Linked DNA regions of Homo sapiens: region 2 is linked to region 1. The links come from fine-mapping of genetic effects on gene expression. A gene starts in region 1. The other region holds a variant in brackets. All regions are shown on one strand. Distances are from middle to middle.

Region 1 (16,548 bases):
AAAAGAATTTGCAACCCAGAATTTCATATCCAGCCAAACTAAGCTTCATAAGTGAAGGAGAAATAAAAACCATTATAGACAAACAAATGCTGAGAGATTTTGTCACCACCAGGCCTGCCCTAAAAGAGCTCCTGAAGGAAGCACTAAACATGGAAAAGAACAACCGGTACCAGCCACTGAAAAATCATGCCAAATTGTAAAGACCATCAAGGCTAGGAAGAAACTGCATCAACTAACGAGCAAAATAAACCAGCTAACATCATAATGACAGGATCAAATTCACACATAACAATATTGACTTTAAATGTAAATGGACTAAATGCTCCAATTAAAAGACACAGACTGGCAAATTGGATAAAGAGTCAAGACCCATCAGTGTGCTGTATTCAGGAAACCCATCTCACATGCAGAGACACACATAGGCTCAAAATAAAAGGATGGAGGAAGATCTACCAAGCAAATGGAAAACAAACAAAGGCAGGGGTTGCAATCCTAGTCTCTGATAAAACAGACTTTAAACCAACAAAGATCAAAAGAGACAAAGAAGGCCATTACATAATGGTAAAGGGATCAATTCAACAAGAAGAGCTAACTATCCTAAATATATATGCACCCAATACAGGAGCACCCAGATTCATAAAGCAAGTCCTGAGTGACCTACAAAGAGACTTAGACTCCCATACAATAATAATGGGAGACTTTAACACCCCACTGTCAACATTAGACAGAAAGTTAACAAGGATACCCAGGAATTGAACTCAGCTTTGCACCAAGCGGACCTAATAGACATCTACGGAATTCTCCACCCCAAATCAACAGAATATACATTTTTTCAGCACCACACCACACCTATTCCAAAATTGACCACATAGTTGGAAGTAAAGCTCTCCTCAGCAAATGTAAAAGAACAGAAATTATAACAAACTGTCTCTGAGACCACAGTGCAATCAAACTAGAACTCAGGATTAAGAAACTCACTGAAAACCGCTCAACTACATGGAAACTGAACAACGGCTCCCGAATGACTACTGGGTACCTAACAAAATGAAGGCAGAAATAAAGATGTTCTTTGAAACCAACGAGAACAAAGACACAACATACCAGTATCACTGGGACGCATTCAAAGCAGTGTGTAGAGGGCAATTTATAGCACTAAATGCCCACAAGAGAAAGCAGGAAAGATCCAAAACTGACACCCTAACATCACAATTAAAAGAACTAGAAAAGCAAGAGCAAACACATTCATAAGCTAGCAGAAGGCAAGAAATAACTAAAATCAGAGCAGAACTGAAGGACATAGAGACACAAAAAACCCTTCAAAAAATTAATGAATCCAGGAGCTGGTTTTTTGAAAGGATCAACAAAATTGACAGACCGCTAGCAAGACTAATAAAGAAGAAAAGAGAGAAGAATCAAATAGATGCAATAAAAAATGATAAAGGGGATATTACCACTGATCCCACAGAAATACAAACTACCATCAGAGAATACTACAAACACCTCTATGCAAATAAACTAGAAAATCTAGAAGGAATGGATAAATTCCTCGACACATACACCCTCCCAAGACTAAACCAGGAAGAAGTTGACTCTCTGAATAGACCACTAACAGGCTCTGAAATTGTGGCAATAAGCGATAGCTTGCCAACGAAAAAGAGTCCAGGACCAGACGGATTCACAGCCGAATTCTACCAGAGGTACAAGGAGGAACTGGTACTATTCCTTCTGAAACTATTCCAATCAATAGAAAAAGAGGGAATCCTCCCTAACTCATTTTATGAGGCCAGCATCATCCTGATACCAAAGCCAGGCAGAGACACAACCAAAAAAGAGAATTTTAGACCAATATCCTTGATGAACATCGATGCAAAAATCCTCAGTAAAATACTGGCAAATGGAATCCAGCAGCACACCAAAAAGCTTATCCACAATGATCAAGTGGGCTTCATCCCTGGGATGCAAGGCTGGTTCAATATACACAAATCAATAAATGTAATCTAGCACATAAACAAAATCAAAGACAAAAACCGCATGATTATCTCAATAGATGCAGAAAAGGCCTTTGACAAAATTCAACAATGCTTCATGCTAAAAACTCTCAATAAATTAGGTATTGATGGGACGTATCTCAAAATAATAAGAGCTATCTATGACAAACCCACAGCCAATATCATACTGAATGGGCAAAAACCAGAAGCATTCCCTTTGAAAACTGGCACAAGACAGGGATGCCCTCTCTCACCACTCCTATTCAACATAGTGTTGGAAGTTCTGCCCAGGGCAATTAGCCAGGAGAAGGAAATAAAGGGTATTCAATTAGGAAAAGAGGAAGTCAAATTGTCCCTGTTTGAAGATGACATGATTGTATATCTAGAAAACCCCATCGTCTCAGCCCAAAATCTCCTTAAGCTGATAGGCAACTTCAGCAAAGTCTCAGGATACAAAATCAATGTACAAAAATCACAGGCATTCTTATACACCAATAACAGACAAACAGAGAGCCAAATCATGAGTGAACTCCCATTCACAATTGATTCAAAGAGAATAAAATACCTAGGAATCCACCTTACAAGGGACGTGAAGGACCTCTTCAAGGAGAACTACAAACCACTGCTCAATGAAATATAAAAGAGGATACAAACAAAAGAAGAACATTCCATGCTCATGGGTAGGAAGAATGAATATCGTGAAAATGACCATACTGCCCAAGGTAATTTATAGATTCTATGCCATCCCCATCAAGCTACCAATGACTTTCTTCACAGAATTGGAAAAAACTACTTTAAAGTTCATATGGAACCAAAAAAGAGCCCACATCGCCAAGTCAATCCTAAGCCAAAAGAACGAAGCTGGAGGCATCACACTACCTGACTTTAAACTATACTATAAGGCTACAGTAACCAAAACAGCATGGTACTGGTACCAAAACAGAGATATAGATCAATGGAACAGAACAGAGCCCTCCGAAATCATGCCGCATATCTACAACTATCTGATCTTTGACAAACCTGAGAAAAACAAGCAATGGGGAAGGGATTCCCTATTTAATAAATGGTGCTGGGAAAACTGGCTAGCCATATGTAGAAAGCTGAAACTGGATCCCTTCCTTACACCTTATACAAAAATCAATTCAAGATGGATTAAAGACTTAAATGTTAGACCTAAAACCATAAAAACCCTAGAAGTAAACCTAGGCATTACCATTCAGGACATAGGCATGGGCAAGGACTTCACATCTAAAACACCAAAAGCAATGGCAACAAAAGACAAAATTGACAAATGGGATCTCATTAAACTAAAGAGCTTCTGCACAGCAAAAGAAACTACCATCAGAGTGAACAGGCAACCCAAAAAATGGGGGAAAATTTTCACAACCTACTCATCTGACAAAGGGCTAATATCCAGAACCTACAATGAACTCAAACAAATTTACAAGAAAAAAACAAACAACCCCATCAAAAAGTGGGTGAAGGACATGAACAGACACTTCTCAAAAGAAGACATTTATGCAGCCAAAAAACACATGAAAAAATGCTCAGTATCACTGGCCATCAGAGAAATGCAAATCAAAACCACAATGAGATACCATCTCACACCAGTTAGAATGGCAATCATTAAAAAGTCAGGAAAGAACAAGTGCTGGAGAGGATATGGAGAAATAGGAACACTTTTACACTGTTGGTGGGACTGTAAACTAGTTCAACCATTGTGGAAGTCAGTGTGGCGATTCCTCAGGGATCTAGAACTAGAAATACCATTTGACCCAGCCATCCCATTACTGGGTATATACCCAAAGGACTATAAATCATGCTGCTATAAAGACACATGCACACGTATGTTTATTGCGGCACTATTCACAATAGCAAAGACTTGGAACCAACCCAAATGTCCAACAATGATAGACTGGATTAAGAAAAAGTGGCACATATACACCATGGAATACTATGCAGCCATAAAAAATGATGAGTTCATGCCCTTTGTAGGGACATAGATGAAATTGGAAATCATCATTCTCAGTAAACTATCGCAAGAACGAAAAACCAAGTACCGCATATTCTCACTCATAGGTGGGAATTGAACAATGAGAACACATGGACACAGGAAGGGGAACATCACACTCTGGGGACTGTTGTGGGGTGGGGGGAGTGGGGAGGGATAGCATTGGGAGATATACCTAATTCTAGATGACGAGTTAGTGGGTGCAGCACACCAGCATGTCCCATGTATACATATGTAACTAACCTGCACATTGTGCACATGTACCCTAAAACTTAAAGTACAATAATTTTAAAAAGGCATCCAAATTGGAAAACAGGAAGCATACTATCTTTGTTCACTGATGACACAATTGTATATCTAGAAAACTCTAACGACAACTCAAAAATAATAATCCTAGACTTGATAAACAATTTCAATAAAGTTTTGGGATACAAATTCAGTGTACAAAAATAAGTGGAATTTCTATACACCAATAACATTCAGGCTGAGAATGAAATCAAGAATTCAATCCCATTTACGATAGCCACAAAAAAAATAAAATATCTAGGAATACATTTTACAAAGGAGGTGAAAATCTTTACAAGGAGAACTACAAGACACTCATGAAATAAATTAGAGATGACACAAACAAATGGAAAAACATTCCATGCTCTTGGATTGGAAGAATCAACATACCATACCACCCAAAGAAATCTACAGATTCAACACAATTCTTATGAAATTAGCAATGTAATTTTTCACAGAATTAGAACAGCAATCCTAAAGTTCATATGAAACCAAAAAAGAGCCCAAATAATGAAAGCAATCCTAAGCAAAAAGAACAAATCTGGAGGCATCACATTACCTGACTTCGAATTATACTACAAAGCTATAGTAACTAAAATAGCACAGTACTGATAGAAAAATACAGATATACTTTAATGGAAGAGAATAGAAAACCCAGAAATAAAGTCACATACCTACAACCAACTGATTTTTGACAAAGTTGACAAAAATAAACAATGGGGAAAGGATATTCTGTTCAATAAATGGTGCTGGGGAAACTGGCTGGCCATATCCAAGAGAATGAAACTGGATCCTTAGCTCTCAGCATATACAAAAATTAGCACATTCTGGATTAAGGACTTAAATATAAAACCTGAAACTATAAAAATACTAGTAAGAAAAACTAGGTAAAACTCTTCTGGATATTGGACTAGGCAAATAATTTATGACTGAGACATCAAAAGCAAATGCAACAAAAACTAAAATAGACTTAAATGGGACTTAGTTAAACTAAAAAGCTTCTGCACAGCAAAGGAAATAATTAACAGAGTAAACAGAAAACCTACAGAGCTGGAGAAAATATTTGCAAATTATGCTTCCAACAAGGGATGGATATCCAGAATCTACAAGGAATGAAAACAATACAAGGAGAAAAACCCCATTAAAAAGTGGACAAAAAACATAAACAGACATTTCTCAAAAGAAGACACACAAGTGGCCAGTAAGTATATAAAAAATGCTCAACATTAGGAATTATCAAAGAAATGTAAATTAAAACCACAATGAGACATCATCTTATACCAATCAGAATGGCTACTATTAAAAAGTCAAAAAAACAGATGGCAGTGTGGATGCAGAGAAAAGGGAACACTAATACACTGTTGCTAGAAATGTAACCTCTATGAGAAACAGTACGGAGATTTCTCAAAGACCTGAAAATAGATCTACCGTATTCAACCCAGCAATCTCACTGCTATGTATCTATCCAGGAAAAGAAATCATTGTATCACAAAGACACCATCACTCATGTTTATTACAGCATTATTCACAATAGCAAGGTCATGGAATCAACCTAAGTATCTATCATATGGGTAAAGAAAATGTGGTATATATACACCATGGAATACTATGCAGGCATAAAAAATAAAATCATGTTCTTTGCAGCAACATGGATGGAGCTGGAGAACATATCCTAAGTGAAATAATTCAAAAATAGAAAATCAAATACCACACATTCTCACTTACAAGTGGGAGCTATGAGTACACATGGGCATAACAATGGAAATAATAAACACGGGATTTCAAAAATGGGGAGGGTAGGAGAGGGTGAGGATTGAAAAATTACCTATTGGGTACAATGTTTACTATTTGGGTGATGGGTATACTAGAAGCCCAAACCCCACCATTACACAATATACCCACGTAACAAACCTGCACACATGTCCCCTGAATCAAAAATAATTTAAAAAAAAGACATTTCATTGGAGTCTAAATTTTATATACAGAACAAGGCCATGTTCTTAGACCACAATATCTCAAAACCTGGCAAAATTATTTTTACTAAGTATACTTTTATTATTTTACTGTTATGGAAAGAAGTTTACAAAATCCAGTCCTGCAGCTATTAATCCTTCAACGAAGACTTTCTTTCCAGTCTAAAGCACCAAAAAAAAAAAAAACTTGAGCTCCCATATGCAATTATTATACAATTTTCATACGTAAATTGTATAACAGATTTATTGCCCTTTTTACTGTGGTTTCTAGGAATTTGGAGAATAAAGTTTGCAAGTCAATTTTTAATAACTGTGTAACATCCTGTGGTTTACATACCTGCATTCAAACTACCCTGGCCTCTTGTTTGCATTTAAGTTTTCCTTCTTTAACTTTACATAATTTTTATTTCCTAGAGTATTGTATTATATTCATACATGTATATAAATATATGCAAAAATATTCATAGAAAAAATGAAATAGGTAATATATAAATATGCATAAAATTGAAATGAAAAGACACAATAACATTTTACCAAGTTTTAAAATCTCAGGTGGGTGTGAGGCCATGACTGTGAACGTTGTCAGTCACTGACTGTATTCAGCTGTAAAGGCTTGACAAGGTGAGAAAAACCTCCCACACTTTTAAAATGAATGAAATGTTTGAACACTAAGTAGTCATACACAAAATAATTACCTTAATTTCATATGTTGTTCCAGGATTAAGATTAGTAAGAAGAACTTCCAGACTGTCTGGCTTTGATCTGACTTGTGTATATACTGTTTGCATCCACGGACAAACTTCCTTATATTTGACAATGTAAGATATAATCCTTCCATTTGGATTAGGTGGTGTATTCCAAGACAGAAGAATCCCAGCAGATCCGACTCTTTCCCCGGCTAGGAAGACTGGAGGCCCTGGTTCTATTTTTAAAAAATCCATTTTGTTAAAAGGTCAAATAATTATTGCATTTTCACAAAAATACATAATAACAGTATTTATAAATGTAAAATTTGAAATTTCCAAAGAGCAATATGAGTTCACACTCCCTACAGCTCTGTTACTATTAAAAAAATACTATGTGGAATACCAAAAGCATTCCTTTATAAGAATGTGAAAAATGGAATGCTACTAAATAAATACTACATGCCGAATATACTTTTGTTGCCAAATCATTTTTAAAAGAAATTCACTTACGCAAGGCTTACACAGAAAAACTAAGAAAACAAGAAATAATCTTACAAATGGAATAATCCTTCCTGAGCAAATGTAGCCAGTTCATTTTCATGGTTCTGTATTATTTAAATGTTAGCATTAACAGTCTCTCTGATCTATTTCACAAACAAGTATAGAGTAATTATCTTTGCACTTTGAAAGTAAAGGAAGCTGAAGAAACAGCAGAATGCAGGTTCTAAGCAGATCACTTTCTTGTTTCCATTTTGCCTTATTCTACACTGTTTTCATGAATTTAATGTACATGTTGCCAGTATAAGTATTTCCATCCAGTAGAATTATACTGACTCCAAATACTTTACTTACAAAGTAATTTAAAACATATACTCACTTGTTACATTTGTTGTCACTATTCTAGTAACAGGTGAGGTGTATGTTGTAGAAATTGAAGAGATGGTTATATCGTACCTAGTACCAGGAACGACATTGGAAACATCAACCTAGAACACCACAAACAAATAGTTGCATTAAAATTCTTTCTGGAAAGCAAGCAAGCTAAAATAAATCTATCACTATAACAAAAATTAACTCTTCACTATATAACTCTGCACTGTTTATAACATCACAATAAGTTCCATATTATTGTAAGATACAAATATGTTATATAACTTTTTACCAAATGACTTTAAAATAAAAACTTACAAAACGTACTGCGTTATCACAGCCTAAGTCAGCATTTCTATCTATCCTAGTTCACTGTCACAAGGAACAACTATTCAAGTCTTGAGAAATCTACAGCCCATGACTTAGCCCTTGTTTTTAAAGAGTGTATACGAAATACCTGTGTCTCTGAAGTCCCAATAAAAAGTAAAAGAAAAATGATAAGAAAATCCATCTTTATTACATTTTTCAGCCAGTAGAATCACATTGATGGCTCTAGAGAGAAATGTTGCCTGCATTAATGATTTAAAGACAGATCCTTCTGGCAAGTACACAATTAATGAGCCCATATTACTCAATAGCTCTGCCTTTTCTTTGTTAAACTATTCATGAACCCTTGGATGACTGGCTGTAGGTTCAGGGTGAACTTAAAAAAAAAAAAAAAAAAAAAAAGCAGCATAGATGTTGCTAAGGTAACAGTCCACCAATGCTGAAACTTAACACTCATCAGTTTGACATCAACGTTTTTGTCTTCAACTTATGCTTTCAAAAACCCAACAAGGAGTAAGTTTTTGTGGTAGATGGGTTTCATAAAATAAAGAACTTTCCTATTAGGAGCAAAATATAAATACAAGTAGGCTCGGCAAGTACAATAATGAAAACTATACCTGATATTCTCCACCTCCAAGATCTCTGATAGTAACAAAGCCACTGTCAGGAACAAGATCCACTTGATACCTTTCCACATGACCAGAGGGTAGGCTCCAGTGCAGAGAAAAGGAATGTGTGGAAATATTGAAGGCTCTAAGTTTCTCAGGTTGTTCTGGTTCTGATATTGAAAAATAGAGGTTTAAAATAAAGTTATTCTCCTAAAGTTTCAAAAAAATGAAAACAAATAGTATAGGTTCAAGTTCCAAAATAATCATGTTGTTAGAAATCACTGAGTACAATAAATGATCTCTAAGTATACTTGGGTGTTAAACATGTAAATATTTAACAACACCTAGGTTTTAGGTATAACTATCATAAATAATATAACAATTAATTTTCTGTTTCTGAAATATGTCTTATTTGCTAAAAGTCTGCTAGTTGACCAGATTGTTTTTGAAAGCTTATGCTCTAATTGAAAATTTGAGTCATTTTAAAACAAAGTAAATATAAACTATTTATCCAATTACTTGGAAATTTACCAAACAGAAGATAATTGGAAAAATATATAATCAAAATCTTCCAGATTTTTTGAAGGGTGAGCATTTCTGATAAATATTTGTTATTTTATCTTTTTTAATTTTTAATGTCTTTTTCCCTTTACTGTGGTGCTGATCTGATAAATATTTTGTTAGGTGTTTCTTTAAAAGAAAAGATAAGGTTTCATATCAGAAATGAAATATAGTTTTAAAACAAGTACCAATTGTTTTAGCCATTTCAACCATATTTTTCTACCTTTGCTTCCACTTTTTCAAAAATTTTGTTCATGCTGCCTGTACCTCCTCGAAGGGAGTTTTCCACATAAAGTTCTTCTGATTGGTTGCCAATGAGTCAGGTTTGCACTCTGCCTTATCTTTAGTGCAGATTCCAGGCAAACAATATAGGGGGAGGAAGAGAGATTATGAAGCCAAGCATGTGAAAACACGCCTGATGCAGATTCAATCTAACACTGTTTCTAAAAGAAAGGAGGCTGGAATTAATTTTGAACCTCATTTATCATTTTAAAACCCCACTACCAGAAACGATTTGAAAATGGATATAATAAAATGTACATTTTCTAACAAAACTAACAGGGCACATTGCATATAACAAAAATATTAACATAATAGGTCACTTTCTTGGTGTTTCAGGGAAGAGCGTTTCTGAAATAGTTTTTCTTTATCGCCTTTGAAATTTCTTCTAATGATTATAACATAACGTTGTCCTCCATACCCAAAGCTTATATCAATTGATTAATGTCCACCCCAACATTCTCAAAGTTCCAAGCATTCTCTTGGCATCCACCGCTAATTGTCCACTATAGTTTTCTGGTAACTCTAGGAATACTGTAAACCCAAGGCAAAAAATCAGAGAAATACCCAGCCTGTGTTGGGTAGAATTTCATTGTTAGCTGCTGGCATTTTTTACAAGGTAAGCCAGACCTATGCCCTCTGTATTCTCAAGCTTGAGAGAAAAAAAGCTTGAATCTCCTATCTGCTACATTAAAATACACAAAAATCTACCATGACTGATCCGTCTAACCAACTACTACTCACATTTACTGATTTGTGTGAGGGTTAATACTATTGCTTCAGGGACCCCAGAGAGTAACTAGTATCTATGAAGTCTTAGACAAGAAACTAATGAAGATATGGAATAAGACTTTGGAAGAAAAAGGAAGATGTGAGAAGTGAAGCACTAGTTACTGGGATGGCAGTGAAATGGGATGTGGTTTCCTGGACTGAAGAACCCTTGCTTAGGAATGAACTATGTCTCACCAAGACAAAGAAAAATATATTGGTCTGGACAATTGCCAATCTGATCAAGAGGGAAGGCCTGGAATCTTCACAAGAGTTTGGTAAAGGCCTTTCCAAATAGCAAAGTGTATGGAAGTCCTGGAAATGAAAAAGGATTGGAGTAACTGAGGAAAGCCAGACTGAGATTCTGGGATCAAAAAAGAAAGGGGAACAGACTGATGATCATGTAGGTCATACTAGAGATTTTAGGGTTTTTTACCTAAATTCAATGGGAAGCCACTGAAGAATTTTAAGCAGGAAAGCAACAGGGCTTGTTTTTTGTTTAAAAATATAATTTTGAAATATGGGATATAAATTAGAGCAAGGCAAAAATGGCAGCAGGAAGCTAATTAGTAGGAAATCATGGTAGTCTAGGCCGAGAGGAGGAAAGCTTGCACTCAGAAAAAGGTAGAGGATCTACAGCAATGCTTAAATCATTATGAAAGAGTGCAGCTTTCTGGTTAAGAGCTAGAAGGTTCAACTAACTGAAAATAGACTCCATAATAAATATATAATTTATTCTCCATGGAATTTAATCTCTCAAAAAATAGGAAACCAAAAAACAAAAATACTATTCTCAACCTAATTCTTACTAACCAATAAAAATAACATTGGGAAGTTGAAATGTTTGGAGTTTTAAGAGGAAAAAAAACATTTCATATTCAACTTAATTAGGGCAAGCAAAAGGAATTCTAGGTTTATTTACGTGTTTCTTCCAGACTTTAATTTCCTAAAAATTAATCCTCAGAACCTTATATCATTAGAGCTTAATAGATGTTCTGTAATCAAACCACTTTGTCAAATAAGTTCTTTTTAAGTTAAGCAGCTTTCTTTATTGCAGTGTATTTTAAAGCCTCAGATATCCTAATATATCTTGTGATTCTCTAAACCATCAATGTCCAATAAAACTATAACGTGAGCCACACATGCAGTTTTGAATTTTCTAGTAGCCACATTTAAAAAGTAAACAGAAACATGTAAGATAATTTTAATAATGTATTTTATTTAACCCAATATATCAAAAGCATTATTTCACATATAATTACTATAAAATTATTGAAGTGGTTACATTAATTTTTTTCATACTAACTCTTTGAAATTTCACATACATTTTAAATTTACAGTACCTCTGAATTTGGACTGGCCATATTCCAAGATTAAATAGCCACATGCTGCCAAACACTACATATTGGACAGTACAGCTTTAACTACTACAGCATCTCTTAAGTTTTTCCTTGGCATTTCAGTGAATTTACCTAAATTTTATTTTGAGAAGCTGAGAAATAAGATCCCATGGTCTTTGTCTATAAAGGAAACAGCTCAACAGAGTTGGGAAGACATCCAATATATACAAAATCTTACATATCTCAGAACATTAAAAAAGAGTCAGACCTATCAAAATGGTATCAAGAAAGCAAAAGACTACAATGGGCAGATATTTTAAAATAAAATGCTAAGACTTTAAAAGTTTCATCATCATTGTTAACTTTATATTTTCTCTGCACTAACACTGTATCTGATAAGTTTTAAATCTCACATTTTAATTTTTCTGTGATTAAATTATAGATCGGACATAATGTATTCTATGACAGATAATGAGATGTACAAGCAGCAGACTTACAAAATAAAAAGAACTAACTCCTACTAAGTTTATGACACACTATGCACTGTGCTAAGCACTTTCATATATTGTTTTATGTAACACTTGCAACAACACCAGGAATACTATTATTGACATTTAAAAGTGAGGAACAAAGAATTTAAGTAATTCCAACAGGTCCCATAGCTAATGGGTAAATGGTAGAGCCAGGATTTAGACCCAGAGGCAAAGTCTTCAAGTTTTCAATCACTATGATAACTGTGTGCTCCTCTAACTTTCACAAAGTGGCTTACAAATAACAGCTGGTTTAAAAATCCTAAATGAATTAATTAATACTTTAAAATAGATTCAACCACAAAATTAGATGATCTATAATTTTTCTTTCAAGCCTATGATTATTATTTGAAGTGACCTCTAATTTTGGCTTAAGGGATTCAGTCTAAATATGTCCCATACCAGGGCAATGTATACTTATCAAGTGCCTGTAGCTTCCTCATATTTTAGAAATAGGCTATGAATAAATTATAAATAAAATAAACATCCTCTAAAAAGTCAGCATTATATCGGATGTCACCAGGGTGTAAAAATCAATTTTTAATACAGACACTGGGCACAGGCCCTAGAGTTGGATTGCTGGGTTCAAATCCTGACTCTGCCATATAAACAAGACTTTAAGCAAAATACTTAATATCTCCATACCTCACCAGCCTCATCTCTATGGGTATAATAACACCTCACACATTGTTGTGAAAATAAAATAAGTTAATACATGTGAAGTGCTTAGAAGACTGCCTTGAACATAGTAAGAACTAAGTACTAAATGTAAGCTATGATTAATAGTCTCTTGCTATTTCTACTATTTTTCTCTAAAAGCCCTGGTCATCTCTTAGTCAAACCATCATGTTACCTGTTCTTCATTTCTCAGCTTAGCCCCCTCCTCATATCCACTCAATGCTTTGCTCAAAATGGATCCCCAAGCACTGCTCCATCATCACTGCTCTTCTGTTTATAAAAACTAGGACAGCAAGATGTCTTCCTGCTCTGGAGACCTCCACCAGGGAACCCAGATTACCATCTTTTCCCATTTCCTCTTCTTATACTCATCTCTTAAGTCACTGTGCTGTTTTAACAGGGACTTCAATTACTTACCTGCAATCTCTCAAAACCATCACCTAAACCACACTAGGCGACCAGAACATCAAGTTCCTACTATTTTATAAAGCTCTCTTTTCTTTAAGTAAAATGAAAACAAACATTCTGTATCTTTTATGAAACTTTCCTGATATTGATACCACCTTGGTCACTTTTTCCTCTGACAAAATTTTCTCTAAGGGAGCAAATCCTGCCACTCACACTAACTGCACTCTTTCCTTTACCTATGTATAAACAAAATAATTTTTCATATTTTTTCTTCAGTCTTTGCTCAATGATCTATTTGATCTTTGTATCTAACTAAATATATCTGCATTTACCACTAGTTGTGATTTGCCACATAGGGGACTTGCAGCAATTTTCTAACAAAAATTTTGATTGGCTCAATTGGAAAGATCCTACTAGCATCTGGTGAGTAGAGGCCAGGGATGCTGCTAAACATCCTGCAATTAACAAGACACATCCTCACAAAGGAGAATCTCTCAGCCCAAAATATCAATAGTGGTGAGGCTGAGAAACGCTGCCACAGACTAAAACCTCTAGAATGGGTCCCATTTTAGTGTGTTCGATTGTATACATTACCTATCATAATACTCTGTAGTAAAAGACATTTGACACATGATTTAACACATTTGCTTTTTAGAAGTAGATAAGGTATATAGTATCTATTAATATACACAGATACTCCTCAACTTACAATGGGGTTATATCCTGATAACCCATCATAATTGATGTGACATTTTCCACCTATGCTGGGTTTATCAGATGTAACCCCAATGTAAGTTGAGGAGTGTACCGAATGCATATTGCTTCTGCATCATTGTAAAGTAGAAAAATTGTGGCATTGTAAGTCATAGATTATCTGTAGAAATAGAACAAAAATGTGCAAAGTGTTAGGAGAATGTGTATGAGTCAAAAGGAATCTCAGAGGTCATCTAATTTAAATTTCTCAGAAACTTGATACCCAAAGACATCAGGTAACTTGCCCAGTAGTACTCAGCTAACCAGTGTCAAATCCTGGAGTAAAGCTGGTATATGAATTCTAAATTTATTCCTTGTTTTGCATTATCACATATATATCACATTTAGGAGAATAATAGTGTATGTGTTAAGCAGTATAAGTAAGGCCCACCCCCACAAAAGATGCCCAAATGCTAAACCCTGGAACGGTGAATATGTTGTGTTACATGGCAAAAGGCACTTTGCAGATGGAATTAAGATTATAAACTATAAACAGAGATCAAAACTGGATTATCCTGGTAGTCCCGATCTAATCATAACAGCCCATAAAAGTAAAAGAGGAAGTCAGAAGAGTCATATATGATGGGGGGAAAGGGGAGCTTTGAAGCCCGAGTGGCACTCAACCCTCCTTTATTGGGTGTAGGAAGAGGATCACAAGTCGAGGAATGAGCCATCCTCTAAAATCTGGAAACAACTGTCAGCTGACAGCCACCATGGAAATAATGACCTCAGTTCTGCAACCACAAGGAACTGAATTCTGCAAACTACTTGAATGAGCAAGGAACTTATTCTCTCCTAGAATCTCCAAAAAGGAACACAGCCCTACGAGAACCTTGATTCAACCAGAGAGAAGTATGTTGGACTTATGACCTACAGAACTATGAGATAACACATTTGAGTTATTTTAAGCCACTATCTTGTGATAATTTGCTACAGTAAAAATAAGAAACTAAGAAAGTGTTGACAGCCAAATAATAATTACCCATACCCTGAATTACCACCATATGTCTGGGACCTTCGGGTCGGTTGTCCAATCCATAGCTTTCAAGATCACTTAAGAGTAATTCTCATGTGTTACTCTTGCAATCTTGTTCTTTTTTGAAAAATTTAAAATATTCATAGGCTTCACAGCTTCCTTTGGATTTAAAAATTACTCTCTAAATTACTCAGGATAGGATTTTATTCTCTTTATATATTAAAAAACAACAAAATATTTCAATATTGAATTGCTTATAGTTCCACAAATACAGCATATTCATTTACACCTCCATAGTTTTGCATGGGCTGTTCCCTACCTCTGGGAGTCCTCCTTTTCACACACTCCATATGCTCTCTAGTCTGATTAGCAAATTCCTAATCCTTTTACAGACATTACCAGCCCCAAAGAGCTTTCTCTATTGCGTTTGTAGGGCTAATCTTTCCCTCTTCTGTGCAACTACAATAAGTTTGGACATACTTCCATTGCTTCGCCTGTTGCACTGACTTATACTACATGTGTTTCCATACTTGTATTCTTTACTATGCTGTGGATATCATAAGACTATGCTTTTTCATGTGTATAACACATATTAGGATGTCAAAGACAAAGAACACATTTTTAGGAGAATAGATGATCCCAAATATACCACATAATTCCACTGGCTAGATCTCTAATTCGGTGTGAAACTGAATATAATATTAACCTCATTTATTGATCACTGTGTGTCAAATAATGTTTTATTCAATTTATATTTCACATGTTATGTCGAAAATCTGCAGAACAGGCCACGCGCAGTGGTTCATGCCTGTAATCCCAGCACTTTGGGAGGCCAAGGTGGGTGGATCACCTGAGGTCAGGAGTTTGAGACCAGCCTGACCAACATGGTGAAACCCCGTCTCTCCTAAAAATACAAAAATTAGCCAGGTGTGGTAGTGTGTGCCTGTAATCTAGCTACTCAGGAGCCTGAGGCAGGAGAATTGCTTGAATCCGGGAGGCAGAAGTTGCAGTGAGCCGAGATCGCGTCATTGCACTCCAGCCTGGGCAACAAGAGCAAAACTCTGTCTTATTAAAAAAAAAAAAAAATCTGCAGAACAGCCCACTAAAATGAGCATTTTCATCCTCTCAAATAGTCTATAGACTGTAAGTTTTCAAATTTCAAAAAATTCTATTGAAATTTTATCTTGAACAATACAATATATAACAGAAATGTGAATTTCTTAAATATCAAAGAGAATTTGCACACCTGCAACAACCCTGGTAAACATGCCACATCCTCCAAGGTTGCCTCTTATTCTGTGTACCATGATGTTATATATTACACCAGGAGTCACATCTGTAACTGTGTGCTCAGTCACCACTTCCCAAATAAGACAGTCTTTTGCAAATGTTCTATTTGATATATAAATCTTATAATGGGTGAAATTGATCTCTGTTGTATTCCACATTAAATTTGAAGAAATATTCACAGCTTTCAAAATTAAGCCACAAATCCTAGATGGTTCTA
Region 2 (16,548 bases), 250 kb before region 1:
AACTGGGGAAATCCTGGTCAAGTCAGAATGAGTTTGTCATTCTATTTCCCAGAAAAAGCCCATAGAAACTGACATACATCTATTCATAAATAAGAACAATGTACAGAGTGCAGGATATATAAAGTATAGATTTTTTATTTAAAAAATTACTGTGATTATAAATATGGGTTTTGATATTAGACAAAGTTCTAGGCCCAGCTCTACTACTTGCTAATCATTTGACATCGGACATGTTTTATAATTTTTCTAAGCTTTAATTAACTAGTCTATAAAATAGAAATAATATTACTTTATAATATTGTTTTAAAGGTTAAATAATGTCAATAAAATCCAATATACAGTATCTAGCACATAAACAACATTCAACACAAATTATTTCAGCTATGATTGAAGGAAAAAAAATCATCCATTCCTTGTTGCTTCAATAAATCAAACCCTACTTTTTTGTTTTCTATATGAACAAAATTTTACATAATGTCATATGATAGAATGCAAATTTTGTTACTTTTTATTTAAATATAAATACAATATAATATTATGTATATATTGCCTTTTTCAAAGAAAATATTATATAAACATTTTATGATGCTAAAACAACTAATATTTTAAATGTTCAAAATCCAAAATATATGGAATGATTTTCCTATGATGTTTAATTCTTTTAAAAATGCAATGAATCATGATATTCAGATGACCCCAATTATAGTGGTGCTTGGTGTTACTAGCTTGCTAAGATAAACAAATGTCTCTAGTATAGTATGGTTAGCCAAGTATTTTGTTACTGCCCTCCAACTGGCTGGTTATGACATATTGCCCAAAATGTTTGGTGCTTTAATGGCTGTGTCAGGGTCTACCGTGACAGATAGCCACCACTGTACAAACACATTTATTCCATAAAGTTTCCCTACCAGTTTGGAAGAAAAAGTTGTTTAATCAGATATTCACTTACATCTCACGTTTTTTTTGAAAGTCCAGACATTTTTGTCTGTGGATAATACATGTTAGTTTTTAGGTTAGTGAGTGATAGAAAGTTATAATGTGTTTAAATTGCATATAATCTGGAGCTTTTTAAAGTACAGGCATTACATGTTCAACATGTCACTGGTCATATAAAATTAATCATATTAAATTTTATCTTCCCTGATTTTATATGATTTGGGCTAAGTGTTGTCATATTAGAAAAGACTGTCTGTGAATTTTACAATATTAGTATGGCCTTTTTATTAAGCCATTTAAATAGATTTTTTTCACTTTCTTGTATTTCAGTATAAGCTATCGCGAGATTTATGCTGCTTCTTTTGTAGCAATATAATGTTGAAGAATTGGTGCTTCCAAAAGAAAAGAATAAAAAGTAGTAATATATATAAGTTTTTTATTTTGTAAAATTGTAGCCATTGTTCAACTCTGAAAAAAAATAAGTTGCAGGCCCTTATATGTTGAAGTACTTTAAGTAAATGATCTCTTTACATCTTCACAATATTTTACCAAGTGTATAATATAATTGATTTCATTTTAAAAATACAGAAAGCAAAGCAAAGATAAGTTAATCTATTTGCCCAAGATTGCATGCTATATACTTAAACCTGGTTCATATGGCACTGATTCATATAATTAAAGAGAAGCTTTTCTTCTGAATCTCCTGACAGCGACCAAAAGAATAGTCTTCTAGGAGTTACCTACCTTACAGGAGCTTTGAGTGTTTATTTGGGAAACTTCAGGCTAACTTCTGTTTTTTTGTTTCTTTTTTGTTTTGTTTTGTTTTGTTTTCAGTCACATGTCCCAAAGAGGCATGTTGGTAACTGATGGCTGAGATTTGGACCTACGTATTGTCCCATTAGCAAATAATGACACAATGGTATTTTCCATGTACACTACTACGTACAGGCAGCCTGTCTCAGAGGTCACAAAATAGATGTTCAAGTGAAGATACTCAAAACACATGGTCTGATTCATTATTTTAAAACACACAGTGAGAAGCAAAAGGAAAAAGATGGAATAATTTAGTGCACTATTGTAGGGTAAATGTGGAGAAAACACATTTTCCAAATACTAAGTTACACAATGCTCTTATATCCTGTCTTTCTCTTTTCCCCAATTAGTCGGCTCCACTTACAGTAATAACAAGGACTAGGGTTGAGAGCGAGCAAGGGATCTTAGCAGGTAGAAGGTGTCTACAACCAATACACAGATCCTGTGAACAACTAGCCATATCTAACTCTCATGGATAGGACAGTCTTTTCCAATTGGACATCACATGTTTTGAGGATATTATGCTCACTTGAAATTACTGAGGTGTCTAACTATTGAGAAGGCTAAATGTAAATATGGTTGATAGAGATAAAGAGAAAAATAAAAGCAAATACTGATCTTACTTTTTCTACAAAGGAGCACATGGAAAAAGGCATTGTAGGATCTTTTGGAAGAGAAATTTTATTTTCTTAGTCTCCCATTAGATATGCTGAAACAAATTACATTTTGATATAATTATTTTTGCTATATTTGGTTTATTAATATAAATTATACTGAAGTTTAGCAAATTATTTTATGTAAGCCATTTATAAAGAAAGCCTTTATTAAGAAATACCTTTCACATAAAGTATTCCTAAGATAGAGATGGAATACACTTGAAATTTTCAATTTGTGTTAATTATGCTTTTAGTGAGATTTAATAATCAAAAATTTAAAAAAACTACTACTTATTTATTAGTTGACAGAATAGAGAGAATTTAGTTTTAAATGGGATTACAACTGAAAGAGGCTAAAACAAAACATCTTGGTTTGTTAACATATTTTAAACTCACTTAGAAATAAGTTAGCTTGGGCTTGAAAGGGTCTTTTCTTTCTCAAAATGATGGGCACAGTTTGATCCAAGAATTACCACATAAGCTGAGTGTAGAATTCCTTTCTAAATTTGTTTCCACGAAAATAGATGATCATATGCTGTTGGAGATCAACAAAATAAGGTGCTTCCATGACGCATAGTAAAGCATTCTTTTCTGTGAAACGCTTTAATGTGAACTGTGACAAGCATGACTCCTATGATGGATATTTGGTGAGGTACGACGTTCTTATTATGCAAACAAGAGCTTATTAACATGGTTTCCTCAACTCCACTTCTCACTTCCAAATCCTCTAGGAATTGACACCAACTGTCCATTTTGACACTTGTTCATTAATTTTCTTTCAATAGAACTATTCTCTTCGCTCAGCTGTTGTAGCAATTTAAGATTTTACATACTTTTCTGATATGGCTCTTTGTTGGACATTCCTTCTGTGTTCAGAGGACCAAATAACACCAGAGTTCTAATGTATGTCACAAAGTCCTTAGTTCAGTTCACCACTTGTTCCATTACCCAATCTCATAAAAGGGAACTTCAGCTCGACCTCTTAAAAAGTGAAAAGAGCAAAATCAATTAGTTCTATCAAGACTTAATGGTCATGACAGCAATAAATCCATGCCAGTGCCTCCTTTCCTAACCTGAATCTTTTCACACACCTGCCAGTTGATTCCTGGTTATAAGTTGCTTACAGAAAATCTTTTTTTTTCTATTAGTAGGCGTGTGTGCACACATGTGTGAGTACACTCATATCACAGCCATGACTGGAAGCACTAACAGATCACAGGCAACAGATAATGATTATTTATTCCTTTGTGAAATATGCTCGACTTTGCAAATTTTTATTCGTGATCAGAAAGCACCCTCGTTTTGAGGATTAAAGGGCATAAAAATGAATAATATAAGGAATGGCTGCAGATGTGTCTAACATTTGTTTTGTAATAAAATAAAGTTGGACCGTGCAGTGGTATGATTTCTCCATGGCACAATACGCTCTTTTCTTGTGTCAGTTTTTGTTTGGGTTTAGTGAGAAACATCACATCACAAAGAAACAATGCAAGAATCAAGAGTTGCTTTGCACTTTACCGATCTGTCGTGCTGTTCCTGGAAACGTTTATATTTGAGGCTTGCCAAAAGACAGCAATTGTTTTGTGGTTGCTATGATTAAAACAGATATAAGTGTAATAACTGATGCTTGATGGTTTCGATATTCTTTTACTATTTTGTTCAGATTCATTAATATGCTTTAGTCTTTTAGATTTTGAATTATGTTACGATGCAGTAGCACTAAGAACATATGCTGCTTTTTAAAAAGAATGAACTCTTTTCCAGATATTAATTCTTTAATCTTAGGTATATGATTCTAAAATACCTAGACTTCTTATGTTTCCATACTTTATTTTTACTTCTTTGAGGATTTGGTATTCTAAATAGTTTCTAAATCTCTAATAGCAGAAATTTTTCTTTAATCTTATCCATGTCAATTTACCAAAAAGCTTATATTTTTCTGACTTTGAAGAAAATCCCAGACTTCTCAATGAATAAGTTATCTTTTGAAGATCAAAGTGATTATTAAAATCAGCTTTTGGATATATGATAATATTGTAATACTATTTTTGGCAGTGGTAAGTTACTTAAAGAGTTTTATAAGTACATCATAATAGCAATAACCTCAGACACAGGGAAAAATGAAGTACGATCTTATAAAATCTTATAAGATTAGCATGAAATTGTTCTGAGGGTGCAGTAATTTAGATGTGCCTTCAGAAGTGCAGAGCAAGACCTTTATAAGGCTCTGGGACTCTGGGACTTTGAATAGTCTATTAAAGACAAATAATGGAGAAAGAAAGAAACAGAATGAGAGAAAGAAGAGGAGAGTAAAAGAAGGAGGAAGAGGGAGAGTGTGGGGGAGAGAGGGAAAAGCTATAAGGGGGAAAGTGGGATTGTGAAGCCATTCTGAGTTCAGAATTGACCACTAGACGTCTATTAAAATCAACTCTAAAAAAATCACAGGGTTTTCAAAATCAATGCATACTCTGGAATTATTTAAAATGCTTAAAATACTGGGTTGACACAGAAGGCTTTAGGGTAAAGTACATCTCCTTGTTAATGATTTGCTTCTTTGGGAATACAATTTGGTAGAAAAGTTAGCACATAAGTCACAGAAAGCTTGGAAGTTCCTGATGTTGTTTCCTACATTTTTCTACTTCAAAATTCAGTCTGTAAGGAAATATTCATAAGGAGGCTATTTGTGGAGTGTGGATCATCAAACTATATTCACTTTTCATAGCTTGTATTGATTATAGTATCTGATTTTATGTTTACATATATCCTAGCACTTATCACATTGCCTTATAGTGCTTATTGTTCATATCACCCATTACATAGGGCAGGAAATATGCAATAATCAATATAGATTGCAGAAGACTATCTGTTCTAAAATAGACACTATGTAATTTTTGTGAGTGATTGAGTGAAAGTGGTAATAACTGTCAAAACCTTCTATCATCTATGAGAATGTCTTGAAATGGCATTTTTTATTCTTAGAATTTTAAATTTCTATTTCTATTTGGTATTTGCTTAAATTTTATTGGTGTTTTGCCCAAAAGATGCATATTTAAATCAATGCAAGACATAATGCTCATTTACTGTCTGAAAATAATTCCGCCAAAACTTTTGTTTTGGTAGAAGTTCCTGAAACCTCTATGGGACCAGAAGTTCTCTACTCAAAATACATTTTGTAACAAGACATTTTTTTTTTTCTGTAGCTAAAATTGCTAAGCTTTTGACACAAGTCTAGCTGTCACAACCAAATTTTAGTACACCAGTCAGACCTTCATGCTATGGTTACATAGATGAGTATGATTATTTATTGACTGTGTTTTTTAAAAGCAGTGGTGGGCTACTTGTTCCTAGTCACCTTGCTCCTGAGTACCTGGGCATCTTTGATGTCCTTGGTCTCTGTGTCAATAAGTCATTATTTCATCTAGCTGGGCTCATAAGTATAAGGGTCTCAAGACATGTGGTTATTTACCTTTGCTCACTCTTCAAAACAGTCATCAGAAGCTAATCTGTGTTGCTACCTTGTCACCTCCCAAACCTTGCTGGTTCAGAGTTTGATGGGAACCTGAAGATAGTCAGAACAGTATGGAACCCCACGTGGAAAACTAATCCTTACCTCTTCTTTTTGTATCCTTCACATTTTTTCTTTACAAAGCTGTTGATTTGTAGTAATAAAAATATTTTAGTTTACCTTAAAATAATTTTGTAAAACACTTTTTAGTCCAGTACATCTTCATTTTTAAAAAATGGTATCTTAAGTGTTACATACTGGGTAGCTCATTTCTGAGAGGCCTGTGAAATGATCACATTAGCCTATATAGTGCGATTGACATAATCAGGACTCAAGATTTATTAAGTAATAATCCTATGATCAATTGTAACCCTGGGGGAACTTGTTAAAATTTGGATTCCCAAGATCCACTGCAGCCCAACCGAACCAGAGTATTTCTGTAAATGCTAGTAGGGATTCTGATGAGATTAAATGTGTCCAGCCTAATGGTTCTTAAACCTGGCTGCACAATAGAATAACCTGGGAAATGGAAAATGATTAAAATGTGCAGCCACTACTGAGAACTTTTGGCCTAGCACAATGCCCAACACCTATTTTATGTTCAATGATTGACAGATACAGTTAAGTTAGATAAAAGAAAAGCTAGCAAGTGATTAAAAACCCTTCTCTCATTCTAATATATGTCATGAAAAGAAGATTAATGAAATTTCCTATCTAAAATTATTTTTATTTCAACTGGGAATGAATCTTGGCTTTTAGTAAGCATAAATTTACCTTCAAATACACAGTTAAATGATTTTACATTAGTAGAAATAAGTATCATTTAAATTATATATCACTTTGGCCACTGTATGTAATACAACTTCTTTTCTTCCTTAAAGTTCTACTTTAAAACATGGGTTCTAGAATACAATGTCAAGAAGAAATAAAACTGTATCAAGGATTCAATTACTGTAAAATCCAAATTCTCATATGATGATAGAGGTGATAAATACCACCAGTATGTATTGAGTACTGTTAGCCAGTTATTATTTAAAGTTCTTCAGATGTATTGACTTTTTGTTCACAATATCCCTAAGAGAGTTAATATCAGCCCCAGATCTTCATATTGTGCATTTAAAGTGAAAACAAACATACAGAAAAGAAATGCTAGGATAAATCACTTAGCCTCACATATTGTTTTATAAATAATTCTTTATTGGAATTAAATTTGCATAAACATCTCTCAAATTGTAATTTTATTTGCTTTAGAACATAAGGACCTTTTCTTGGTGTATAACCAGCTACCTTGATATACTATGAGAACTTAAGTACAAAGTATTCTATATCACTATAATGTCTACTGCTAGATTATGTGGCATATTGTTTAAAAATCAAGTAATAAGTTCCTGTTTGGTAGAGTTAGATTGTAGTCAGTATGCATACAGTTCATTAAAGTAAGTATGTAACATATTTCTTTATAGTTTCCCATGACAAATGAAATATTATTTCAAAAAAAATTTAAGGAAATTGAAAAAAATAAGACTAATATAACATGTTTTTAAAAATAGTAATTCATTGTCTTAGAAAAGACTTCATAATCATGAAAAACTCAGCAAAACAAGCCTTTTCTTTCAACTGAGTTAATTTAGCCAATTTTTGAATGGACTCACTTATTTAATAGTTTCTTATAAATTTCATTTAATTCAAGCCCAGGCCTTAAAAGCAAAATGGTCATAATTCTAACCAATGCCATAAATCCCCCAATTATGTCACTAGGTATCTTCATGAAATCTTACATTTCTTTTAGTGACCATGACCAGAAAAAAAAGGATTGGAAACATCACTCCAAATTGTTAATAAGAGTTACCCTTAGGTACTAGAGTTTAACGTGATATAATTTCATTTTACTTTTTAGATTTTTCTGTCATTTGTACAAATTGTATAATAATTTTATATTTTGTAATGAGAAAATAAATATTTGAGACAATAAAATAAAATCAGTAATTTAGGCACAAGTAGAAGAAGTGCATCTGGTGAATAAGACCAAATCTTAGTTTCTAGGACTGGGAAACAAGGCATGCACTACATTTACAGAAAGATTTTCTTGATGTTGATCTAAGAGTACTGAAGGAATATAATATTTTCCTAGATAAGGACTAA[G/T]TTCTTTCCAGAGTGAGGCTGAGCTTTCTGGTTAGATTGAGTTGCTTCTAAAATATAGAGACGAGGATGTTGGAGCAGGAAACCAGGTAGCTTGCTCCCAAAAATAAGCTTCAATTGCCTGGGAAATTCCATTATACAAATAAGGTCTGTTAAAAGATAAACTGAGACACTATACAAATTTTAGAGTTTATTTGGGCAAACAGTGGTACATACATTTGGGAAACACCAAATTGAAGGACGTCTTGAGCTCTACTAAAGAAATCCAAGTGGAAGGCTTTTATAGCATGACTGGGAAGCAAGAAATTGAAAATATTTGAGTGGTTACACTTATATAGTTGCTCTATTTGGTCTGTTCCATTGCTGGCAGCTTCTGATTTGTTGAACTTGTTTTCTTTTTAATGATTCTGGCATTTACAATAAATGGCCCAACTTGTTTTGCTTATGTTTGCAGTCCAAGCAAGATTAAGGTTACTTTCAAGGCTAGCTGGGTTTGTCTGCTTAGAAATTTTTCAAACCTGGTTTTCATTTTATTTTATTTTATTTTATTTTATTTTAACAAGTCCTTCCTAATTATAACAGATTATATTATAGGCTGCTTTTATTAAATTTGTTGTACCAGGAAGTAAGGCTACTCAAAGTAGTCTATTGACCTAAACTTTAGGTTTAGTTTCTTGATACACATCTTTGAATTCTGATAAATTGTGGAGAAAATGTAAATATCTAAAATTGGGGTTGGAGGATTCACTGGACATTAATTACCCTGAGAAGGGGGAAATTATTTATGGACTTTAAAGAGAAACAAGGCCTTGGGACATACTAAGATTTATTTTCTCCGTAATCCATTTTGGTTACTGGTGATGAGGTTATATCTTACACGACTCCATTATTTTCCTTACCTACAATCATTTAGTTCCCTACTATCATTTACTTAATAACTTTTGTTTTTTCCACTGGTGGGTGATATTTCCTTACTATTAAAATCTTTTAACACAGACTGTGTTAGAAAAACCTGTGTGTTTCATTGAGGCCTTGGTTGCTTTCATTGAGATAAAGTATGTTATCTCAACAATATACTTTTAACTTGTTTAGATAATAAACCATTTTAATACATGAAAGGGCAGTTCTTTTTTCATCATTTTTATTTTCTGAATTTTGAAACCCATTTCTCATTTATTCTTCCAGATGAACTTAACTTTTTTTTTTTCAAATTTGGAACAATTAAATGTTATGAAGACTTTTAAATTGGCATACTAAACCTATGAAGTAATTGGAGAATAATGATGTTCTTTATAATAGGCCTCTCTTACTTAAAAAAATCATATTTTGCATTTCCCTATGTTATAGTATTCTTTAGAAATGCACTATAAGTTTAGCCTCTCAATATTTTATTATAGTTTGGACATTGTCAGTGAACTAATTTTTCCTATTTTATCTTTCACTCATGTTAATTGACTACTTATGATTTTTATATATTTATTTTGCAGTCACCTGCATTAGAGAATTTCTTATTACGTATATATCTTTTTCAGTCTATTTATCTGTATTTTCTAGGTATGCAATATTTTTGTACCAAATAATGGGAATTTTGACTTATGTTATTTTTGTTTACTTTATTACTGCTTTGGTTAGATTAGTGGTAATACATTTTTGGTACCTGATTTTGATGATTCCCTGCCTCTAAAATGTCTTTAGTACCCTAAATTACTTAAAACATTGAAAAATTCATTCATGTACTCACTGAGTTACCATTTATTTAGTACTCTTAGGCACTGTAAACGATATTTATATATATGTGTGTGTGTGTGTGTGTGTATATATATATCTCTATATATTCATATGCAGGATATGAGGGGCCATTGAAACCCATCTGGGTCTCTACTTTGCATATCACCCTGAGGAAGTGAGCCACCACTGAGTCTAGCTGGCGAGTAGAATCTTGCTCCCTGCTGACCTGCTTCCCTGCCACTTGGACCTGCCTAGTGCCAGTTCCTGGATTCTCTTTAGCCTTGCTTCACCTGCCTGTTATGATATGCTACCTCTTGCTAGTCTACTCTCATGTGTCCTAGCTGGGTTCACCATCTGTTGCTCATTACTGTACTCTCTGGACCTGCTGTCTGCCTCCATGCATGTGCACATTGGCAACTGAATCCAGATCTGCCTCTGCATCTCTACCACCTGCTTCAGCCCTGTGGGATATCTTGTTCCAGCTTTCTTCTGAAACTGCCTTACCCTACCTTTTCAGTCTAATAAGTTTTGATGAGATCTTTTAAATAATATGTCAAACCCATTTCTGTCTCCTTAAACAGTAAACATAATGTAATTGAAAGAGAAAAAAAATGTTTTCTTAAAGATGCAGAGGCTGGTGTTGTAATATTTTTTTTTTATCCAGTGGCTATTGAAATATGTTGGATTTCAATAAATGGTCCCAAATTTTTAGGTTTTGAAGATATATGTGTTGTTAATAAGGAAGTGTGTGTGTGTGTGTTTGTGCACAAAATAAGTATATAAGCCATCAATTTTGCTGTTTCTGGATTGCCATGACCTGGAAAACCAAGTTTGTTGAAGTATTTATAATGTAAGAAAAAAAGACTGTTGATGAACTACTTTTTAATAAGTTGCTCAATTATACAGAATTCTTTTTTGTTGGCTTCAGTTGTTTAAAGGATTTTTACACACTATCAAGTTCCTGGTTACATTGTGGATAACTGATAATCCTGAGCAAATGATACATTAATCACTGTATGCCAGTTTTCCCTGCTCTTTCACCTTCATTTATCTTTGATCTACAAGTGTTTGTTTGTTCCCTGACTGCAAAGATATTTTAGCATGCGTGAATTGGTAGGAAAATACACTGTCACACAGACATTATTTTACTTCTGCTAAGGCAAACTGTCAATTGAACATTTTGTTTAAGTTTCTGTCATGAGTAAGATGTTATTTAAGTGTTACGTGGATAAAATTATGAGAATAACTTGGTCTTTGTTCACAACCAGTTGACAATCTAGTAAATGGAGAATGCCAGTGGATAAGAACCTGCAAAAACGCCTTCAGAATTCAGTTCTAAGAAAGGTCTTAGTTATTGAGGGAAATGTAGGAGCCAAAGCATGGTATTTGGGAACATGTAGGATGTGTTTTAGTAAGCAGCAAATATTCTAATTTGGTTTAGTTCTAGAAAAAAGAATACTGTGGGAAGATATTTTTAAAAAGTGAGTTTAATTTAATAGTCAATGAAGGGCTACTGAATAGATCAGTGAAATGATCAGAGCTGAGATTTAGACTTAAATCTCAGCGTTTCAGAGCTTTAGATTTAAATCTGGCAAGTGTAGAGTTGGAGCAAACAAACCATACAATTTGGTTTGGACCAAATGTATATTGGATGAGATAGTGAATAAGAGAAAGAGTATAGTACTAGACACCCAAATACAAAGGCTGGCACTATCACTGACTATATGACATGAATAACTTAATTTGCATAAAATAGCTATTACAGATACTATCCATAAGCTTCTGTTCTTGAAAGAGGGCATAGAGTTTATGTGTATGTACTACGTCCAAGTAGATATTATCATATATCTAGTGGTCTCCATGTAACATAACAGGATATGGTGGCAAACACTACAGGCTCTGAAGCCAGACTTCCTGTGTTCAAGTCTAGGCTCTTTCATTTACTTAATGTATAATCTAGGGCAGTTTATTTAACCTCTTTTTGCTTTGGTTTCCCTATCTGTAAAAGGCAGATAATAGCACCTAGTGCTATTATCCGAGAATTGTCATGAGGTTAATGAATTAATATTTGTAAAGCCCTTAGAAGAGTGCCCGGCACATGGTAATGATTCAATAAAGAAGATTATTATTAATTACAGTAAATAAAATTATTACAATTTTAAATGTATCACAATTATTCATATCACAATTTTAAGTATAATCTTTAACACGTAAGTAGGTAAAACTTCTGATTTAATAGCCCAGGGAGTCAGTACTAATCCTGTTACTATTTACCAACTTTGTGAATGTAGTACACTCAGATTGATGAAACCAACTCTGTGTTCCAGTGTCAGAGTCCAGCAAGTGAATTCATCATATTTTTCAAGGCAGTTCATGGGGTTATAAATACTAAGTGAATAGGAGCATAATTAATTCTTTGGGAAGAACTTGGAGCATATCAAGTTTTAATGTTTAAAATGTTTAAAAGACTGATTGTTAGTGCTTTGGGAATGGAGTAAGCATATAACAGAAGTAAGTAAATATTTTTCTCAGTGTTGTACTCATTCAACCAGGAGAGCTTGAATTATTATTATTGTGAAAATAATCCATAAACACTTTATGTCATTTATTTTAATAAATCATTAAAATTTAAAATTACCTGTTTTTTTAATTATAAAATTCATCAAACAAAAAACTATAAAGCATAATACAATAAATATTTTACTCATTACTTAATTTTAGCAAATCTGACAATGTTGACAGATAGGCTTCAAATTTTAAAACAAAAATTTACAAATGCATTGGAAGCCCTTGTGTATCCCAATCTGATTCCATCACAATCTATCTCCATACCTGCATTGCTCCCTTGCCAGGGGAAACCATGATTCTGATGTGAATTTTTACATTCCCATTCATTCCCTTGATTTTATGTCTGTACTAAGATGGATGCATCCACAAAAAATGTACTACCTGTTGTATTTTTTAAACATTATATGAATGGCATACAAATGTCTCAAAACTATTTTTTCATTATTTTTCTGTTTAGTAAATTGTATTGGTTTATAGTATACATAAAATAATACAATCATTGTATGTATACAACTTAAGGGATTTTACACATGAATATGCCTGTGTAAACAGCACTCCATTCAAGATAGAGAACACTTTCATCATTCCCAAAATGTTCCCTTTGGTCGACTAAATTCAGTTCCCCACTTACACCATACCCCAAGTAGTCATCATTTATTCAATTTCTATCACTATGGATTAGTTTGAACTATTCCAGAACTTCATAGAATGGATTCTTACAGTAGGTACTCTTTTGTGTCTGTCTTCTTTCACTCAGCGTATGTTTTTGAGAATTCTCCCTGCTCTTGTGTGTATTAGTAGTTTATTCCTATTTTATTGCCAATTTGTATTTCATTGCTCAAATAGACCACAACTTGTTTATCCACTCCTGTTGATTGTCATTTGGACCCTATATTTTTGTCCGTTATGAATAAAGCTGCTAAGAACATTAATACAACTTCTTTTCTGAAAGTATATTTTAATTTCTCTTAGATACATGACTAGGAGTGGTAATGTTGGGTAGTATGGTAATAATGGTAGTATGTTTAACTTTACGAGAAACTGCCAAACTGTTTTCCAAGTGGATTGTACCATTTTATACTTCCAGTTCCAGCTGCTCCAAATCCTTACCAAGATGACTTGATATTTTGATAATTTTAATTTTAATCATCCCATTGGGTGTGTGATGGTATCTCATGATTTTAATTTGCATTTCCTTGATAACTAATGGTATTGAACATCTTTTGTATTGGTGCTAAATATCATTTGACATACTGGCTATCTGTGTGTGTGTGTGTGTTATACTTTGTAAATATACATATATTCTGGATATAAGTACCAGGACTTGTATCCTATTACATGTATTGTGAATATTTTCTGCTATTCTTCCAGCCTGTGGCTTGACTTTCCATCTCATTTATTTATTTGCTTATTTATTTATTTAGAGATAGAGTCTCACTCAGTTGTTCAGGCTGGAGTGCAATGGCATGATCATAATTCACTGCAGCCTTGACCTCCTGGGTTCAAGAAGCAATCCTCCCACCTCAACCTCCCCAGTAGCTGGGATCACAGGCATGTGCCATCACACCTAGCTGATTTCTAAATTTTTTGTAGAGATGGGGTTTCCCTGTGTTGCCCACGCTGGTCTCAAATTCCTGGGCTCAATTGACCCTCTCACCTTGGCTTCCCAAAGTGCTGAGATTATAGGCATGAGAGACCATACCTGGCCTTATTTTCTTTTTTATTTTTATTTTATTTTATTTTATTTTCTTAACAGTGTCTTTTGAAGAGCAAGAAATTATACTTTGATGAAGGATAATTTATCAAGTTTTTCCTCGATGTTTTATTTTTGGTTTGTATACTAAGAAATCTTTGCTTATTGAAAGTTCATGAAGAATTTTTCTTACTTTTATCCCCATAAGCTAAATAGTTTTAGCCTTTACATTTAGGTCTCAGATCCATTTCAATTTAATCTTTGTGGGTATTTGTATAAAGGTGATGATTCGTGATTTTTCGTATAGACATCTAGTTGTTCCAATACTGTTTTTGGAAAGACTATATGTTCCCTGTTGAATTATTTTATCATCTTTGTTGAAAACCAATTTACCATCTGTGTGCAAGTTTATTTTTGGACCTTTTTTTCTGTAAATGAATCTATAGATCTATAGTGTAAATCTTTCAATTTTGTTCTATTTTAAAGTGTTTAGTCACTTTAGGTCTTTTGCACCATATAAACTATAAAACTAGTTCATCAATTTCTTTAAAAAAGTCCTATGGAATTTTTATTGAGATTTCACCAAATCTGTAAATCAATATGAAGAGAATTAACATCTTAACAATATTGAGTTTTGAGTTTATGAAAATGAATTTTGGAGAAATTTATTTTAATCTTAATTCCCATCATTAATGTTTAGTGGCTTTTAAGTATATCGATCTTGCACAGATTTTGTTAAATGTATCCTAAACTTTTCATGTTTGTGGATGCTTTTTTACAAATTTAATTTAATTTAATTTTAAGTTCTGGGATACCTGTGAGGACTTGCAGGTTTGTTACATAGGTAAGTGTGTGCTATGGTGGTTTGCTGCACCTACCAACCCATCACCTAGGTATTAAGCCCCTCATGCATTAGCTATTTATCCTGATGCTCTCCCTTCCCCCTGGATGCTATTGTTAATGGTATTTTTAACTGCAATATTCCAGTTGTTCATTACTAGTATGTAGAAGTAGATTTTTGTATCTTGACTTTATATCCTTTGACTCTTTTTTTAAAGCTACTTGTTATATCTAGTAGCTTTTTTGGTAGATTTCTTAAGATTTTTCTCATACATGATATATTTTTCTCTACTCACATAAGCAGTTTTATTTCTTCCTTTACACAATATATTCCATTCATTTCTTTTTCTTGCCTTATCATAAAGGCTAGAAACACCAGTAGAATGTTGAATACAAGTTGTGAGAGCAGGCATCCTTGACTTTTTCTTGATATTAGGGTGAAAGCCTTCAATATTTCACCATTGAGCATAATATTAGCTCCAGCTTTTTTCGTAATTGCTTTTGGTCAGTTTGAGGAAGTGCTTTCAGCACTTTGAATGTGTCATTCTATTTTCAGTTGGTTTGCACTGTTTCTGAATAGTAGCCAGAATATTTTCTTTTCTGTCATCCCCAGAACAGGTATCTCTCTTCTTGGTTGCCTTTAAAATTGTTATCTTTATCAGTGACTTGCCTTGATTATGCAAGCAATTGATCATGATATGCCTTGGTATAGGGGTGTGTGTGTGTGTGTGTGTGTATGTGTGTGTGCTTATGCAGAAATTATTGTAGCTACAAAAGTGAGAGTAATGATAGTGTGTATGCATGCGTGTGCACTTATCTGCCTAGATTTCTTTGAGATTCTTGAATCTATAGATTCATATTTTTCAAATAGAAATATTTGGACATTATTTCAAGTATTTTTTCTGCCCTCCTCCACCCCTAGTTCTGTAATTTGATTACACTTATGATAAACAATGTGAATTGATCTCCCAGGTCACTGAGAATCTTTATTGTGTTTTCAGGCCTGTTTTCTCTCTATGCTTCAGTTTTAGATCATTTCTATTCCTGTTCTTTAAGTTTGCTGATTTGTTTCTTCTCCAGTGTCTAATTTGCTCTTAATTGCATCCAGTAGCATTCTGATTTCAGCTATTATGGGTTTTAGCTTTAGAAGTTTATTTTAATTGTTTGTAGTTTCCAGTAATATTTATATTTGTTTCCCCTGTTAACATATTTTAATAGCTATATTAAAAGTTCTTGTCTGCTAATTATATCCATTTTTATTTATATGTGTGTTTCTAATAATGGATCCTTCTCCTGGTTATGGGTTGCTTTTTTCTGCCTAGTAATTTTTAACTGAATATCGGGTATTGTGAATGTTACATTATTAAATGTATTTACTTGGTTTAATTTTATAAGGGCTGGGATTTTTCTTTTTCTGTAATGTAGTTTAATTTGATGTTTCAAAACTTTTTAAAAAACGTTTTGTTGGGAGAGTCTAGTTTACTGCAGCTTCTTTAGGGTTTCTGTTGAAATCCCAGGTGTTGTTCTCTACTCAAATTTCATTTAAGAATTTTCTGAAGTTTTGAATTTAGAAATTGATTCAATCAATTTAGAAATTGTTTTATAATATAGTTTTATAATATAGTCTTGAACCCTACTAATGTGGTCTATTTCTCCACTTAAAGGGGTGT

What was found. PIP is the estimated chance that this variant, and not a neighbour inherited with it, causes the effect. A credible set is the group of variants that fine-mapping cannot tell apart.
Region 2: its variant is the best candidate, but not a certain one, in a credible set for the expression of PTPRQ in fibroblasts (GTEx, PIP 0.85).

The regions. Positions count from the first base shown.
Region 1 is chr12:80,436,122-80,452,669 of GRCh38, reverse strand. PTPRQ (protein tyrosine phosphatase receptor type Q) reads right to left here and starts at 8,435. Exons shown (of 45, transcript NM_001145026.2): 1 at 8,271-8,435; 2 at 7,821-7,929; 3 at 6,953-7,179. The coding sequence starts at 8,324.
Region 2 is chr12:80,685,827-80,702,374 of GRCh38, reverse strand. The region is part of intron 1 of LOC105369867 (a long non-coding RNA gene); the gene reads left to right. Among named protein-coding and RNA genes, the nearest start is that of MYF6, 14 kb to the left of the region's middle. The variant G/T (reference allele first, on the strand shown) is at 8,053.